4 linked regions of the Homo sapiens genome follow. The protein of the gene in region 3 interacts with the protein of the main gene of each other region in a biochemical or structural test. Each region holds a gene or a part of one and is shown on either strand. Other genes may lie near its edges.

Evidence for each region. The genes of interacting proteins can lie anywhere in the genome.
Region 1: the proteins of INTU (region 3) and CYSLTR2 interact in a test that uses a peptide from one of them, tested with the Homo sapiens proteins (one large-scale study listed by IntAct).
Region 2: the proteins of INTU (region 3) and ARHGEF16 interact in a test that uses a peptide from one of them, tested with the Homo sapiens proteins (one large-scale study listed by IntAct).
Region 4: the proteins of INTU (region 3) and RALBP1 interact in a test that uses a peptide from one of them, tested with the Homo sapiens proteins (one large-scale study listed by IntAct).

Annotation. Positions count from the first base shown.
Region 1 is NC_000013.11:48,708,828-48,711,726, reverse strand, and holds the end of CYSLTR2 (cysteinyl leukotriene receptor 2), read right to left. Parts: 3' UTR 501-2,899; downstream 1-500. UniProt on the Homo sapiens protein: Receptor for cysteinyl leukotrienes. The response is mediated via a G-protein that activates a phosphatidylinositol-calcium second messenger system.
Region 2 is NC_000001.11:3,468,165-3,471,664, forward strand, and holds part of ARHGEF16 (rho guanine nucleotide exchange factor 16), read left to right. Parts: intron 1-715; coding exon 716-772; intron 773-1,268; coding exon 1,269-1,429; intron 1,430-1,835; coding exon of another isoform or gene 1,836-1,917; intron 1,918-3,500. UniProt on the Homo sapiens protein: Guanyl-nucleotide exchange factor of the RHOG GTPase stimulating the exchange of RHOG-associated GDP for GTP. May play a role in chemotactic cell migration by mediating the activation of RAC1 by EPHA2.
Region 3 is NC_000004.12:127,644,665-127,649,956, forward strand, and holds part of INTU (protein inturned), read left to right. Parts: intron 1-5,292. UniProt on the Homo sapiens protein: Plays a key role in ciliogenesis and embryonic development.
Region 4 is NC_000018.10:9,520,513-9,524,012, forward strand, and holds part of RALBP1 (ralA-binding protein 1), read left to right. Parts: intron 1-1,647; coding exon 1,648-1,997; intron 1,998-3,500. UniProt on the Homo sapiens protein: Multifunctional protein that functions as a downstream effector of RALA and RALB. As a GTPase-activating protein/GAP can inactivate CDC42 and RAC1 by stimulating their GTPase activity.

The DNA.
Region 1 (2,899 bases), on a different chromosome or scaffold from region 3:
TCATCCTCATTCAGAGTAATCCATTCTTCATTAGTTTGCTTTAGAAACAAATAAGGAAGTGTGTAGTCTCAGGCTGCTTGCAGTCAGCTTGTTTCCATGAGAGGATTCACCCATGTGGCAGAGCCAACATCTGGGGAGGAAAGCCCACAGATGTCCTGGTTGAACAAGGCCTGAAGTCCAACTTCCCTCGGTATATTTCAGTTATATGAGATAATCAAATCCCTTTATTATGTAAGCCACTTGGGGTAGGGTTTTCTGTTACTTGCAACTAAAAATATCCCAAGTAACATATCAAAATCTCTCTAACCCCAGAAAGTGACTTTCCTCACCCCAAGAAAGGACTTGCCTCCCATGGCAGGACTAGATGGGCTTCTCTCAAGAACTGAAATACAACTCTGGTCCTTTCCTGCTTTCCTTTCTTCTGTCAATGTTCAGTTTCCATTTCTGATGGGCTTTCTTGTCTTTTTTTGTTTTTGTTTTAAAAAACAACTCAGAATTAGTTTGAATTTTAAAATTTAATTTTAACTTAATTTTTATTTTACTTCAGAAATACATATTCACAAGTTAGGCAATTACACAGTTCGTAAAATAAGTCCCCACCCTATCCTCCCACCCCAGCTTCTCCATAGAGGTAACCCCTGCCCATTCTTTCTTCTGCTTCTACCTGTATTTACCTCCTATTGCTAAATAATATGGTTGTACAGCTATTCATCATTTTCCAGATTTAGTTATTATGCATTTTCTGTGATAGAATATGGCAACCTAGGTCTCTTATACCTCTCCCACACACGTACACATCTTCTCCCTTCATTTCCTGAAAAAAAGGTTATATCACAGTATTTCACTCCAGCAGCACCCCCTTATCTGTGGGAGTTGCATTCCAAGACCCTGAATACGAATAGCACCAAACCCAAATAGTACCAAACCCGATTGCTGTCAATTGGAACACATTTCTGTTCATGTCTTCCACCCACAAATTTAATACCTTTTCATCTTAACTAAGTGTTTATCACACACCGTGGGGTGTAATAAATAATTTTTGCAGCTTGTGGTGCAACAGCAAAACTAGCACAAATTTCTTTTGCCTTCTTCACAATTTTACAGATGGATTTGTTCTTACTGTAGATCTTAGCAACTTCAGCATGTGTTTTTTTTCTTTCCTTATTAAGTCAAGAACTTTCACATTTTCTGTTAGAGGAAGCACTTTACAGCTTCTCTTTGGTGTATCTTATTTGCCAGCATCACTACTCTTATGCTTTGGGGACATTAGTAAGTAAAATAAGAGTGACTTTAACACAAGCACTGTTATACCACAACAGTTGATCTGAGCAACTGGATGATGACTAAGTGACTCATGGGTGGGTAGCATATACATTGTGGATCCACTGGAGAAATCTCACACCATCCCACTTTGCCCTGCCCAGAACATGGGTGGAGGGTGATAGTGCGAGATTTCAACATGCTACTCAAAACAGCACATGTTTTAAAACTTAAGAATTATTTCTGGAATTTTCCATTTAATATTTTCAGACTGGCTGGCTGTAACTGAACTGCAGAAAGCAAAACCACAGATAATGGGAGACTATTATATTCACATTATCCTCTATGTAAATATTATTCACAGCTGAGCCATGTAGTGTACTGTGGTTATATTTCCTCTCTAATACAAAAGTTTCTTTTCCTCTAGCACTTAAAAACTGTATTGCGTTTTTACTTGCTTATTTTTCTATGTATTTACGACTAGTTTATCTCAATCTCTGCAAGAGAAATCTAAATCCCTCTCAATGTGTATGAATCAATTAATTTCTTCTTTTTCTGGGAGACATCTCTCCTAGAGTCCTTTAAGAGTCCTGCTCCAACATGAATGACTTGCTTTCTAAGCCTGCTACACACCAACATCCTGGGAATTCTCTTCACTTTCTCCTGCGTTGGATTCCTTGTTTCCCAGCTACTGTGTTTTCCTCTATCTTGGTTTAATCTCTTATTTTGGAGGATCTTTTATACTCAAAAGGTCTCTATCTACTCTCACATTTATTTGTTGGTGCCTTTCATGTTACGGCCTTTCCCTCAAATGTATTGTGTTCATTGACTACTTTTCATAATTAAGAATGAGGCTCTGACAGGTTGACCAAATGCTGTGAGTGGAAGGGATTTGTTGCATTGTGGGCTTCATCGTCAGGTGAGTAATAGGGCAGACACGCAGCTTTTGTGTTGAAGGATCCTCAACTATTTGTATCTGTCAGCCTTTTTTTCAGATTATGCAGTTTCCCCATAGGAGGATCCTCCAGGGTCCTGTCTTGACAGGGTTTGAGTCTGTCTGTCATCATTCTGGTAGCTAAATAAGGAAAGGGTACTGGGATTTTTGTTTAGTATGATGACTGACTTAGTCCCTCCCTACTTTCAGAATGCCATATCACCTCCACCCTTTACTGTACTATGAGTCAACAACTCTGAAGAGAAACTTTTGGTTTTCTTGTGAGAGTGAGGAGGGGGAGGAAATTGGTAGGAAAGGACAGCTTTTATTCAGACTTTCAACCAATCTTCCTGGAAGTTTACAAGGGTAGTGGTGGGGAGAGCACCCAGCCAACACTTCTGCACAGAGATTTTTAAAACTCTTACTAGCTGTGTAAACTTAAACAAGCTTCTTAATTTCTCTAAGCTTCAATTTCTTCAGCTGTAAAATGGAACTCAGAGCTTTGGTGTGAATGTCAAATGGGATCAACAAATGTAAAGTGCCTGGCATAATCTGCCCTGCAGGGAGACTGCATTCAATTGTTGTCAGTACAATGGTCATGGTGATAGTAGTTGGTAGTATCCTTAGCCTTGTTTCAGTGGACAGAAAGGAACCTCTCACACTATCTAGTGTTTTTCTACACTATCTCAAAAGGGAAGGCAGCAT
Region 2 (3,500 bases), on a different chromosome or scaffold from region 3:
TACCGCACCCTGGTAACTGCCAGAGTTTCCGACCCTGCATGGGAAGGAGGCACTGGTTTGGGGAATGGGGGACTCACCCTTGGCCCAGGCGCTGTTGGCGGCCTTTCTGCCCAGCCCAGTGAGGAGCAGAGCACGAATCAGGGTGGCCTGAGTCCTGCAGAGGGGACCCCTGGGCGGTGTGGCAGCCCTCCTGGTCCTGACGTGCTCTACCAATCGAGCCACACTCCCGCCAAGGCGACCCGCCAGCTGTGGGCCCCGAGGAGGAGGGAGCCCGGGCGGAAACAGCGTCACCCATAGCTTCCAGGCAGGGCACTGACTCGCCTCGCCCAGGTGGGGTCTGAGTCACAGTCCTGCCCTCCACACTCCCTCCCTGGGTGGGCTCCGCACCTCTCCATCTGCCGGGAAGATCTGTGGGACAAGATCCCCCCCCGCCCTCTGGCCTCTCCCTCTGGATGCCCCATGCTCTTTCTGGGCTGCTTTGGGGCTCTGGCGGCTGGGGGGAGCGGGGGGCTGACCCAAGGCGGGTTACACAGAGAGGAAGGTGACGGGGATAGGCCCTCGGCAGGACAGGCCTACTCCAGGATCGGACCTACCTGAGCCCTGTGGGGTGGCTGTCCATGTTGGCCCTGGTCCATCAGGAGGAGGAAAGAAGGGAGACTTTGGCCCAGGCTTCTAGGACGTGTGACCGAGAGCTCCTGGGCCTGTGTCCCCCCAGGTGGTGGAATTGGGCATCCTGGACCAGCTCTCCACTGAGGAGCGGAAAAGGCAGGAGGTAAAAGGGCCCTGGGCGGGAGGGCTGTCCCCCATGGCCTGGGCCATGCAACACCCGGGGAGGGGCAGCAGCCACGGTGGCACCACCCAGCCATCCCTCTGCGGCCACCTCCAGTGCCAGGCCCTGTCACGCTGACCAGCGCCTCACACAGCCCCGGGCTGTGCTTCCACCTGCGCCAGGCCCTGACGGAGCCCCTTCACGTCACCGGGTGAATCCTCGGAGTCCAGGGGCTGCCATCACCCCCTTCTCTGACAAGGACGGGGGTCGTTGCCCAGCTTCAGCCGGCTCATAAGGCACCCAGCCAGGGGCATCCAGGGACGTCGGGCTGGCATCTCCAAGCTGGCCATTCTGACAGCCCCATCCAGGGGTGTGTCTGGGGTTCCTGTCCCCACCTGCCCCTGCCACCCGGGTCACGTCCTCCTGTTCCAAGCATTGGTCACCGAGGCACGCCCGTGTCCAGCGTCACTGTGGGGCTCACCTAGGCCCCTCTCCACAGGCCATGTTCGAGATCCTCACGTCGGAGTTCTCCTACCAGCACAGCCTGAGCATCCTGGTGGAGGAGTTCCTGCAGTCCAAGGAGCTGCGGGCGACCGTGACCCAGATGGAGCACCACCACCTCTTCTCCAACATCCTGGATGTCCTGGGTGCCAGTCAGAGGTGAGGCCACGCCACAGCCTTCCACACAGGGTCCTCTGCCAGGAAGGTGCCTCCCCCCGTGGGCACCGCACTGTCATCAGCAGGCCCCTGGGAGCCTGCGCTGCACCTTGATGTGGATGGTTTAGAGCAGCTGCTGGCTCCCGCGGAGTGTGATGACCTCTGAGGGTCCTTGAGGCCACCAAGAGCTGGCCCCAGGGCCGGGCTAAGCACTGGGGCTGTGGCATCCTGGTCGTTCTTAAGACGTGGAGCACTTCCCAGGGGTACAACCCTGCCCCACTGCCAAGCACCACCCCACCAGGACGTCCAGGCACAGAGGGCTGCATGATCCAGGCAGTGGTGGCCACAAGCTGCTCACCTGTAGGCAGGAAGCCTCGAGTTGCAGCTCTGGGTCATGTTCCACCCAAAGGTGTCTGGTGGCTGGACCTGAGCTCTGGTTGCAGGGCCTGGAGGTAGAGAGGCTGGACATGCAGCTGCAGCCATGCACGGGGGTATGTGCGTGGGGTGGGGTGGGGTGTGTGTGCGTGGGTGTGTGTGTGGGGTGGGGTGTCTGTGCATGGCTGTGTGTGCATGGTCAGTGGTGTGTGTGAGTGGGCTGGCCCCGAGGCCTGGAGGGTGGCTCGGGAGCATCCAGCACCCTGGTGTGTATGCATGGGTGTGTGGGGGCAGGGGTGTGTATGCATGGGCAAGGGTGTGTATGCATGGGCAGGGGTGTCTGCACGGGTGTGTCTGCACGGGTGTGTGTGGACAGGGTTGTGTGTGCGTGGGCAGGTATGTGTGTGTGTAGGTGTGCATGGGTTTGTGTGCCTGGGCAGCAGTGTGTGTGCATGGGTGTGGGGCAGGGGTGTGTATGCATGGTTGTGTGTGCGCGGGTGTGTGCATGGATGTGTGTGCATGGACGGGTGTGTGCACAGGCAGGGATGTGTGTGCGTGGGCAGGGGTGTGTATGCGTGGTCAGGGTTATGTGTGAGTGGGTAGGGGTGTGTGTGAGTGGCTGTGTTTTCGGTCAGGTGTGTGTGAGTGGGTGTGTGTGCGTGGGCAGGGATGTCTGTGTATCTGCGTGGTCAGGGATGTATGTGAGTAGGTGTGTGTGCGTGGGCAAGGGTGTCTGTGCATGGCTGTGTGTGCGTGGTCAGGGGTGTGTGTGAGTGGGCTGGCCCCAAGGCCCGGAGGGTGGCTCGGGAGCATCCGGCACCCTGGTGTGTATGCATGGGTGTATGTGCATGGATGTGTGTGTGGGCAGGGGTGTGTGTGCGTGGACAGGTGTGTGTGCGTGGGCAGGGGTGTATGTGCGTGGGTGTGTGTGCCTGGCCAGGGGTATGTGTGTGGGCAGGGGTGTGTGTGCATGGGCAGGGGTGTGCGTGGGTGTGTGTGCCTGGCCAGGGGTGTGTGTGCGTGGGCAGGGGTGTGCGTGGGTGTGTGTACCTGGCCAGGGGTGTGTGTGCGTGGGCAGGGATGTGTGTGTGCATGGACAGGTATGTGTGCATGGGCAGGGGTGTGTGTGCGTGGGTGTGTGTGCCTGGGCAGGGGTGTGTGTGCGTGGGTGTGTGTGCCTGGGCAGGGGTATGTGTGGTCTCGACCCTGTGCTGCTCCCTATATGCAGGAGGACCCCGGAGCATCGAGTCTCCTGAGCCTCAGCCTCAATGCTAACCTGAGGGGCGGTGCCTCTGGTCCCCTCGTGGGCTTGGGTGGCGCTGGGAGATGATTAGGGGCCTGTAGTGCCTGGCACAGGGCTGCCCCAACAGTGGTGGTTGCTGGCGCATTCTTATATCAGCCCCGCCCCTGGCGAGTCCCACCCATCTGCTGCCTGTGGGGTGCCCTTGCGGAACTTTGGGGCCCTGAGGGTGGGCAGGGAGCCGCCTTGTCCCTGGAGACAGGGGCTTCCTGTAGAGCTCCAGGGACCAGCTATGGGAAACTCCCAACCTCTGACTCAGCATGGGATGGGGCTGGGGGAGGGGGAGGGGTCTGGGATAGCGGCTGCCCCTCCCCCAGCTCTGCCCCCAGCCAGGCAGGCTTTGTGTTCTCTGAGCTCTGTGTCCTCCGGTCCCCTCTGCCTCAGGCAGCTGCATGTTTG
Region 3 (5,292 bases):
TGCTGATAAATTTTAAGCTGTTAGATACAATGTTTGAGTTAGTAGCAATCTAATTACTTAAAGATAAATGAGTAAAATTTGAGGATATATTATTACTAAAATTTAAAAGTAATAACAGTTCTAAAAGCTGACAGTCTTTTAAGTTTATCTAGCATAAGAGGTTTAAATGAAGAACATTTACAGATAAATTTACAAATATTTCCAACTTTAAATCTGAATTTCATTTGTTTGTTCACTGATTTGACAGTTTGTTTTTTTAGCATCTGCTAAGTGCCAGGAATACAAAGATTACTTTACTGATCCAATTATTTCTTGAAAGGAGCTATGTTTTAGTGGAAGAGACGGGTTACAGATAGGCAGGCAGCTCCTCACTGTCTGATAAGTGTCATCATAGGGGTTTACAAGGAGGATCATATGGAATCTTGTAAGAAGGGCATCTGTGGCAAAGTATGTGTTCCAGAATGATCTCAACAGGATCTGCACACTTTCTTAAAATGTAGTGTTGATACTCCTCCCATGGAGAGTTGTGCTCTGTGTCATTGAATCTGGGTGGGCCGGTGACTACAGCTTAATTGGTGCCATGTGACTTAAGAGGTTGGATCATAAAAGGTGATGCAGCTTCTGCCTGGTTATTTTGGGGATACTTGCCCTTAGAACCCAGTCACCATTGTGTGAAGAGGTCAAGACACCAGTGATCCAGCTGATAGCCCCAACTGAAGCCCTCGCCACCAGATGTGAGTGAGAAGCCTTTAAGATGACTCCAGCCCCAACCACCATCTGCCTGTAACTGCATGAGGAATCCCAAGTGAGAACCACAGCTGACCCCAGTTAACCCCAGAACCAGGAGAGATGATAAATTATTGTTGTTGTTATTTTTTTATTTTTTATTTTATTTATTTATTTATTTATTTTTGAGATGGAGTTTTGCTGTTGTCACTCAGGCTAGAGTGCAATGGCACCATCTTGGCTCACTTCAACCTCTACCTCCCGGGTTCAAGCGATTCTTCTGCCTCAGCCTCCTGAGTAGTTGGGATTACTGGCACCCACCACCATGCCTGACTAATTTTTTTGTATTTTTTAGTAGAGATGGAGTTTCACCATGTTGGTCAGGCTGGTCTTGAACTCCTGACCTCAGGTGATCCACCCGCCTCAGCCTCACAAAGTGCTGGGATTACAGGCGTGAGCCACCGTGCCTGGCCAACTGTTGTTGTTTTAAGCCTCAGAATTATTTGGATAGGCCTGGCGTGGTGGCTAACACTTGTAATCCCAGCACTTTGGGAGGCCAAGGTGGGCAGATCACTTGAGGCCAGGAGTTTGAGACCAGCCTGGCCAACATGGCAAGACCCCGTGTCTACTAAAAAATACAAAACTTAGCTGGGCCTTGTGGTGCATGCCTGTAATCTCAGCTGCTGGGGAGGCTGGGGCACGAGAATCACTTGAACCTGGGAGGCAGAGGTTGCAATGAGCCAAGATTGTACCACCGCACTCCAGCCTGGGGGAACACAGTGAGACTCTGTCTCAAAAAAAAAAAAAAAAATTGTTTGGATGACTTATTATGCAACAATAGATGACTGGAACAGGGGCTAATACATACTTACATTCTCTTGGGTCCTCTACTTTCCTTCTTGTGAAATGATAGGATAGAACTAAATATCTCTATGGTTTGTTCTTTTAGTTCTGTAAAAGGAGCCAGAATTCATTTAACGTGCCCCCCTTTCAGTGGTGTTTCCTGTGAGTTGGTAGTTAGATCTTGAGGCCTATCAAACATATTTTATAGGTGGTCTGTGTGCTTCCATCAGGAACAACATATTATCTGCTGTTTTTCTTTTTGTGATATTAACAGTTATTGATGATCATTGCCTAAATCCATTAATTCATTAAGGGACTGCAAAATGGTGATATTCCAATTCTGTCAGTCTTTCTCAATATTTCAGTTAGACTACTTTCATAAAAAGAAGCTCCCCCTCACCTCTGGTAACCTTGACATATGGTTTAGACAGGAAAGGCAGGATAAATGTCTGATTTTTCTTCATTTAACAGTTTTCACAAAAGCAAGTTGGTACCATTATTCAAGGACTTCAGAATGGTAGGTTGGGAGGGGCCTTAATTCTCTCTAGTTTGGTGCCCACATATTATAGACGAGGGGTTGAGATTGAAACTCAAAAAAAAATAACAAAATTTATTGTTAGTAAATGCATTGGCAGAAAACATTGAGTTTTGAATGTATAAAATGGCAGTATAGTAACTGCTTTTCAAAAACCAGATTCCCTTTCCCTGAAGTCAAATTTGGCTTAATTAAAAGGATCAATTTCAATTCACAATTTGATCTCATTTTTCTGTCCCATACATATGTGCCACTCCTTCTATCCATAAATCCCCACCTCTAACAAGCAAGCCTGATTTATTTTTTTCCTAACTGACCTCCAGATACACCTTGTGTGTCCATCTTTGCTTTTTAGCATTCGTGATTCCTTTTTTGGTGCATCACAAAGATTGCTTTGTATTACTAGGCTAGTGCATTCATCTTCTATTGCTGCCGTGACAAATTACCACAAACTTAGTGGTTTAAAACAATACAGATTTATCATCTTGCAATAATGTAAGCCAGAAATCTAAAATGGGTCTTCTTGTATGAAAATCAAGGTGTCCACAGGGCTACATTCCTTTTGGAGGCTCCAGGGAAGAATCCCATTCCTTGGCCAGCTTTCAGAGGCTACCTGCATTCTTTGGCTTGTGGTCCTGTCCTCCATCATCAAAGCCAGCAGCATAGCATCTTCCAGTCTCTCTCATGCTGACCCTGACACTTTTGCCTTCCTCCTATAAAGACCTTTATCTTTACCTGACGATCATTCGGATAATCCAGGACAGTCTTCCAATCTTTTAAGTTAATTACAACTGCAAAGTCCTTCTTGCTGTGTAAGGTAGCATATTCAGAGATTTCAGGGATTGAAACATAGACATCTTTGGGGGGCAATTATGCTGCCTACCTCAGTGGGGGGTTTTTTGGTAAAATATGAGTTTTTTTTCTTTTTGTGATAGTAATAATATACGTTCATTGTAGACAATTTAGAAAATACAATTAAGCAAAAAAGAAAAATTCCATATACCCAAAGACAACATTTTGTTATATATCCTCCCTTTTCCTACATTTATATACAATAATCTTTTGTCAAAAATAATTTAAGTTGTATATTCATTTTATATATAGTATAAACACAGCAGTAAACAAACTTTTGCATATATATTTTCATAGCCCTTGGTGCCTTATGTAGTAGCCCTTTAGTACACATGTTGTTTGATGTTAAGTATATACTGAGAAATTGATGGCTTTTCTCACATAATTTAACTTTACATTGAGGAACTGTGATAAACTGATCTCTTTTTAAAATATTTTATTTGGTTCTTAAATATATCTCTTAATAAAAATTTTCTCATATTTCTACCCAGGCCATTTCTTATTTAACAATGCAAATCAATCATATAATTCATTCCCTTTTAGCCTTTGAAATGGGACAGATCATATTAATGACTCCCGTGTACTTATGGAGAAAGACCTTTCCTTGGGTTTAGGATGTCCACTGCAAAGGTGCGATGTCCGGGAAGCCAGCCATCTCTGAGTCACTTCACAGAAGTGTTCAGAAACACTAGAGGAAAACAAATGTCTGGGAGAATGAGAAGTGGATATAATATTTATTTCATAGAATGGGAAAATTTTCTACTAAACATTTAAAAATATTGGGTATACTACACTTGCTTTCAGAATTTATTTTCATATATTTTTATGATGAACCATCTCCTCTTTTTAGAGGTTTGTTAGACTTGATAATTTTAGATAATACTCCCTATAACACTCAGCTACAGGAATGTATTCATTAGGATTTGGAGAAAAAAGTCATTTGGCACATCATCCAATGGAGTTTTAGTTTAAAGTAACAAATTTAAAATGTTTTTACTATTTCTGTGCCCTGAGGATAACAAACTATAGACAACAGAACTAATCATTAGGATAGTCCAAAAGTGGTTTCATTTTACATTGACACAGCTATACTGTGTCCATCATTCCTTTATTTTCTTTTAATCACTACAGCTATAAGTAATTTGATATAGTACTTTTGTTTAATCTCTTATATAGGAGAAATTAAACAGGCATCTTGTTGTGTTTTTTTTTTTCCAAGTGGACTTCAAGTTGAAAGTTTATTTTGGTCTGCAAGTTCTTACTTTTAAGAAAAGTTTGTCCAAAGTGCTGTAATAGTTAACCATCATAATGACTTGGTGCCCATGCTTGCAAAACTCCCATCTGAGTTGTATCTCTTGAGCATCTAAACCTAGTTCAAGCCTTCACAGTTGGCCTAAGAAAGTACTCCTGCTTACTCTGCACTTAACCCCATTCTCATTCAATAGAGTATCAAGGAGAGGAAGGAAAAAAAGGAGGAATAGCAGTACCTACAGTGGCAACATTTTCATCTGTTTGCCAACCCTACAGATGGCCAAGTGATGCCTAATAATGGGTTGCCTTAAAGGAAAGGAACTCTGAACTTAGGGAACACCAATCTTTTATAAAGAACAGTTATTAATAATAAGATATTGAGCACAGCATTGACCTTATTATACCATTCAGTAAACAAGCTTGACCTTTGCTCAGGATGGAAACATATCTCTGTTGTCCAAGGCTGTTCATTACACGAACGTCTTTGAAAAGACAGTCTAGAACAAAGACTCTCAATGCCTCGGCTTGTAAGATGTACAGAAACATGAGACTCATGAAGAATTATCTACCAACACGATTCTACATATACAGGTTGAGTACTCCTTCTTCAAAATACCTGGGACCAGAAGTGCTTCCAATTTTTTTTTTTTTAATATTGCATTATACTTACCTGTTGAGCATCCCAAATCTGACAATCCTAAATCCAAAATGCTCCAATGAGCATTTCCTTTGAGGGTCACGTTGGTGCTCAAAAAGTTTTGGATTTTGGAGGATTTTGGATTTTCAATTTTTGGATTTGGGATACTTAGCCTGTATACATGTTTATTATCCATCTTCCCCAAAGAATATTAAGCTCCCTGAGAGTAGAGATTTTGTCTTTGTTCAATTCTTTGTCTCTAGTGCTTAGAAGAGTGCCTGGCACACATTAAGTGCTCAGTAAATATTTCTTAAATGAATGGATGAATATGAATTATTTCATCAATTTCCTAATAATATATTTAGGAATGATGAGAAAAATAACTTTGGTATGTCTATATTTCTATTAATATAGCTCACTGGTATTTTGATAGTATCTTTAATTATGT
Region 4 (3,500 bases), on a different chromosome or scaffold from region 3:
AATCTTATGTAATGTTTGCAAATCATTTGCTTTAGTTTCCTTTTGTTCAATAAGCAAAACGATTTTAGAAACCCATACTTTATTTTTTTTGTTCCAGCTCTGTTCAGATTAAGGTTATACTTAAAATAATCCAAACTTTAAAATAGAAATTAGATGGGGATGATTTAATGGAGAATAATTTTCAAAGTGTTTGTTTGGGTAGCTAATTCACCCTTTGCAATTACAGTACAATATTTACACATAAAAAAGTAATTTACCCACAACTTTTTGGAACATACTTAGGTACACCAAGCCACATTTTTTTGTGGTCAGTCTTGTGACTTGTTAGAAAAAGCAGCTGGCTGCCTGTGTAGAGCCAGACTTACACTTGGATTGTAGTTTAATTTTTGTCTTTTTACCTTTTTTTTTATTTTTTTGAGACAGAGTTTCACTTTTCACCCAGGCTGGAATACAGTAGTGTGACCTCGGCTCACTGCAACCTCCACCTCCTGGGTTCAAGCGATTCTCCTGCCTCAGCCTCCTGAGTAGCTGGGAGTACAGGCACCCGCCACAATGCCCAGCTAATTTTTGTATTTTTAGTAGAGACAGGGTTTCACCATGTTGGCCAGGCTGGTCTTGAACTCCCTACCTCAGGTGATCCACCTACCTCGGCCTCCCAAAGTACTGGGATTACAGGTGTGCGCCACTGTGTAATGTTTTTACATTAAAAACAAATTCCTGAATTAATGGGCATATTTGCTTAATATATCCATGGTTGCTTTGACTTCTGACTGTTGAGCTTTTCAATTATCATTTAACTTTTGGTTAAATTCACTTTTGAAGTTAGTTTTTTGGGTTTGTTTTTTGTTTTTTGTTTTTAGATGGAGTCTTGCTCTGTCACCCAAGCTGAAGTGCAGTGGTGTGATCTCGGCTCACTGCAACCTCTGCCTCCCAGGTTCAAGTGATTCTCCTGCCTCAGCCTCCCAAGTAGCTGGGATTACAGGCGCACACCACCACGCCTGGCTAATTTTTGTATTTTTAGTAGAGACAGGTTTTTGCCATGTTAGCCAGGCTGGTGTTGGACTCCTGACCTCAAATAATCCTCCTGCCTTGGCCTCCCAAAGTGCTGGGATTACAGGTGTGATCCATGGTGCCTGGCCTGTTTTTAATTATTTTTTTTATTTTTTGAGACAGTGTCTTACTCTGTTGCCCAGGCTGGAGTCCAGTGGTGCAATTATGGCTCACTGCAGACTCAACCTCCCAGGATCAAGTGATCCTCCCAACTCAGCCTCCCAAAGAACTTGGACCACAGGCGCACGCCACCATGCCCAGCTAATTTTTGTATTTTTTGTAGAGATAGGTTTTGACCATGTTGTCCAGCTAGTCTCGAATTCCTGGGCTCAAGCTATCTGCCCGCCTCAGCCTTCCAAAGTGCTGGGATTATGGGTGTGAGCCACTGCGCCCAGCCAAGTGTAGTCTTACATGTTAGTGTTTACAGAGGAACTGTACGACCTTTGTGCAGATAAATATTTCATAACAAGAGGTTCGTTATTGGTCAGGTTGCTGTTCTCATCTCCTTAGCAAGGGTGGGGATAATGGTAAAGAAAACTTGTGTGTTTGATTTTCTTTTCTCAGTATCTTCTCTCTTCTGAATTTGAATGTTTTAAGGAATTAAATCAAAGGTGGATGAGCTAAAAGCAGCCTATGACCGGGAGGAGTCTACAAACTTGGAAGACTATGAGCCTAACACTGTAGCCAGTTTGCTGAAGCAGTATTTGCGAGACCTTCCAGAGAATTTGCTTACCAAAGAGCTTATGCCCAGATTTGAAGAGGCTTGTGGGAGGACCACGGAGACTGAGAAAGTGCAGGAATTCCAGCGTTTACTCAAAGAACTGCCAGAATGTAACTATCTTCTGATTTCTTGGCTCATTGTGCACATGGACCATGTCATTGCAAAGGAACTGGAAACAAAAATGAATATACAGAACATTTCTATAGTGCTCAGCCCAACTGTGCAGGTACATGGTCTTCTCTACACATATACCCTCTGGTACTGACATTGGGGAACTGGGGTAATTTTCTATTGCTGAGTCACATGTAAAGCAGTGAACTTGAGGAGATAGGTAATGGATTAGCTTGAATACGGGTCTTTTCCTTTCATAATTTGGACAGTGTCAATGTATAAGATAACATACTTGCCCTTTAGCTTGTAGTGATGTAATTTGAATGCGGTACAGTCTTTGATGTGGGTTTATAAACAAGACCTGATGACAAGGATCCTTCATTAGGGGAGGAGGAGCCCATGGCATCTACAGTTATAGAGTTCGTGTGTAGAATTTTAGAGATCCCAGTTATTTAATCAATAGCATTATTGCTTCGTTAGATCACAGACACACATCAAACTCAGGCACAAAGGGACCTGTCATTAATTGTTTGGTCAAAGATTTAGCCTGAGGATTTCATTCATAAGGATGGATCCTAGAGAGACATGTTATAGGCTCTGAATCTGAAAAGGAACTTCAGGGAATTGGGTAGTGTGTTAATTGGTATCTTTTTACGACATACATACTTGGCTTTCCTTTATTGCTGCTCAGTTGGTGCTGTCATAGAGTATATGTTTTCTTTTAATTGCAGTTAATGATATTTTACTCAGGCCAATAAAAAGGGAGATGATAGGTTATATTTATTATCTTAAGCCCTCTTTTTGGCCAGTATTCTGAGTCACCATAAATCACTGTCACTGTTATTAGAGAGTGTTTTCATTTACTAAAGAGCGTTTCAGTCAGGCGCGGTGGCTCACACCTTTAATGCGAGCACTTTAGGAGGCTGTGGCAGGAGGATAGCGAGAGGCCAGGAGTTCAGCCTAGGCAACATAGCAAGACCCTGTCTCTACATAAAAATTAAAAATTAGCTGGGTGTGGTAGCATGTATGTGTAGTCCCAGTTACTTCGGAGGCTGAGGTAGGAGGATTGCTTGAGCCCAGCAGTGAGCTATGATCATGCCACTGTACTCCTCTCTGGGTGACAGAGCAAGATTTTATCTCTAAAAAATAAAGATTCTTCTGTTACTCATTGATTACGCTTTGAAAGCAAAATGTTTCTCAGATTTTAGTTTGATCATTAGGATTTCAGGATCTGGTAAATATTACATTGATACTTAATATTACTATAATATAATAGAGATGGTTGTATCATAGAAGAGTCAAGTGTGTTGTAAGAGTAAGTTTTAGGTAGGAAATAATTTCTTGTAGTAGCTTTTCAGCCAACCTAATGCCCTGGCCTCCTAGCATATGAACATCCATACTTAAATGCTGGCTGTGTCCAGGTATTTGTTTCTGGAGTGAGGGCTTTCAACCTCAACCCAGCTTTACTACTGTGGTGCTCCCACTTCCCTCATGGTCCTCATTCATTCCATTGCGTCTGTTAAAATATGTCAAAGTAAGTTGAAAATAAAGAATATAAGATGTTTTAGCCGGGCATGGTGGCTCACGCCTGTAATCGCAGCACTTTGGGAGGCTGAGG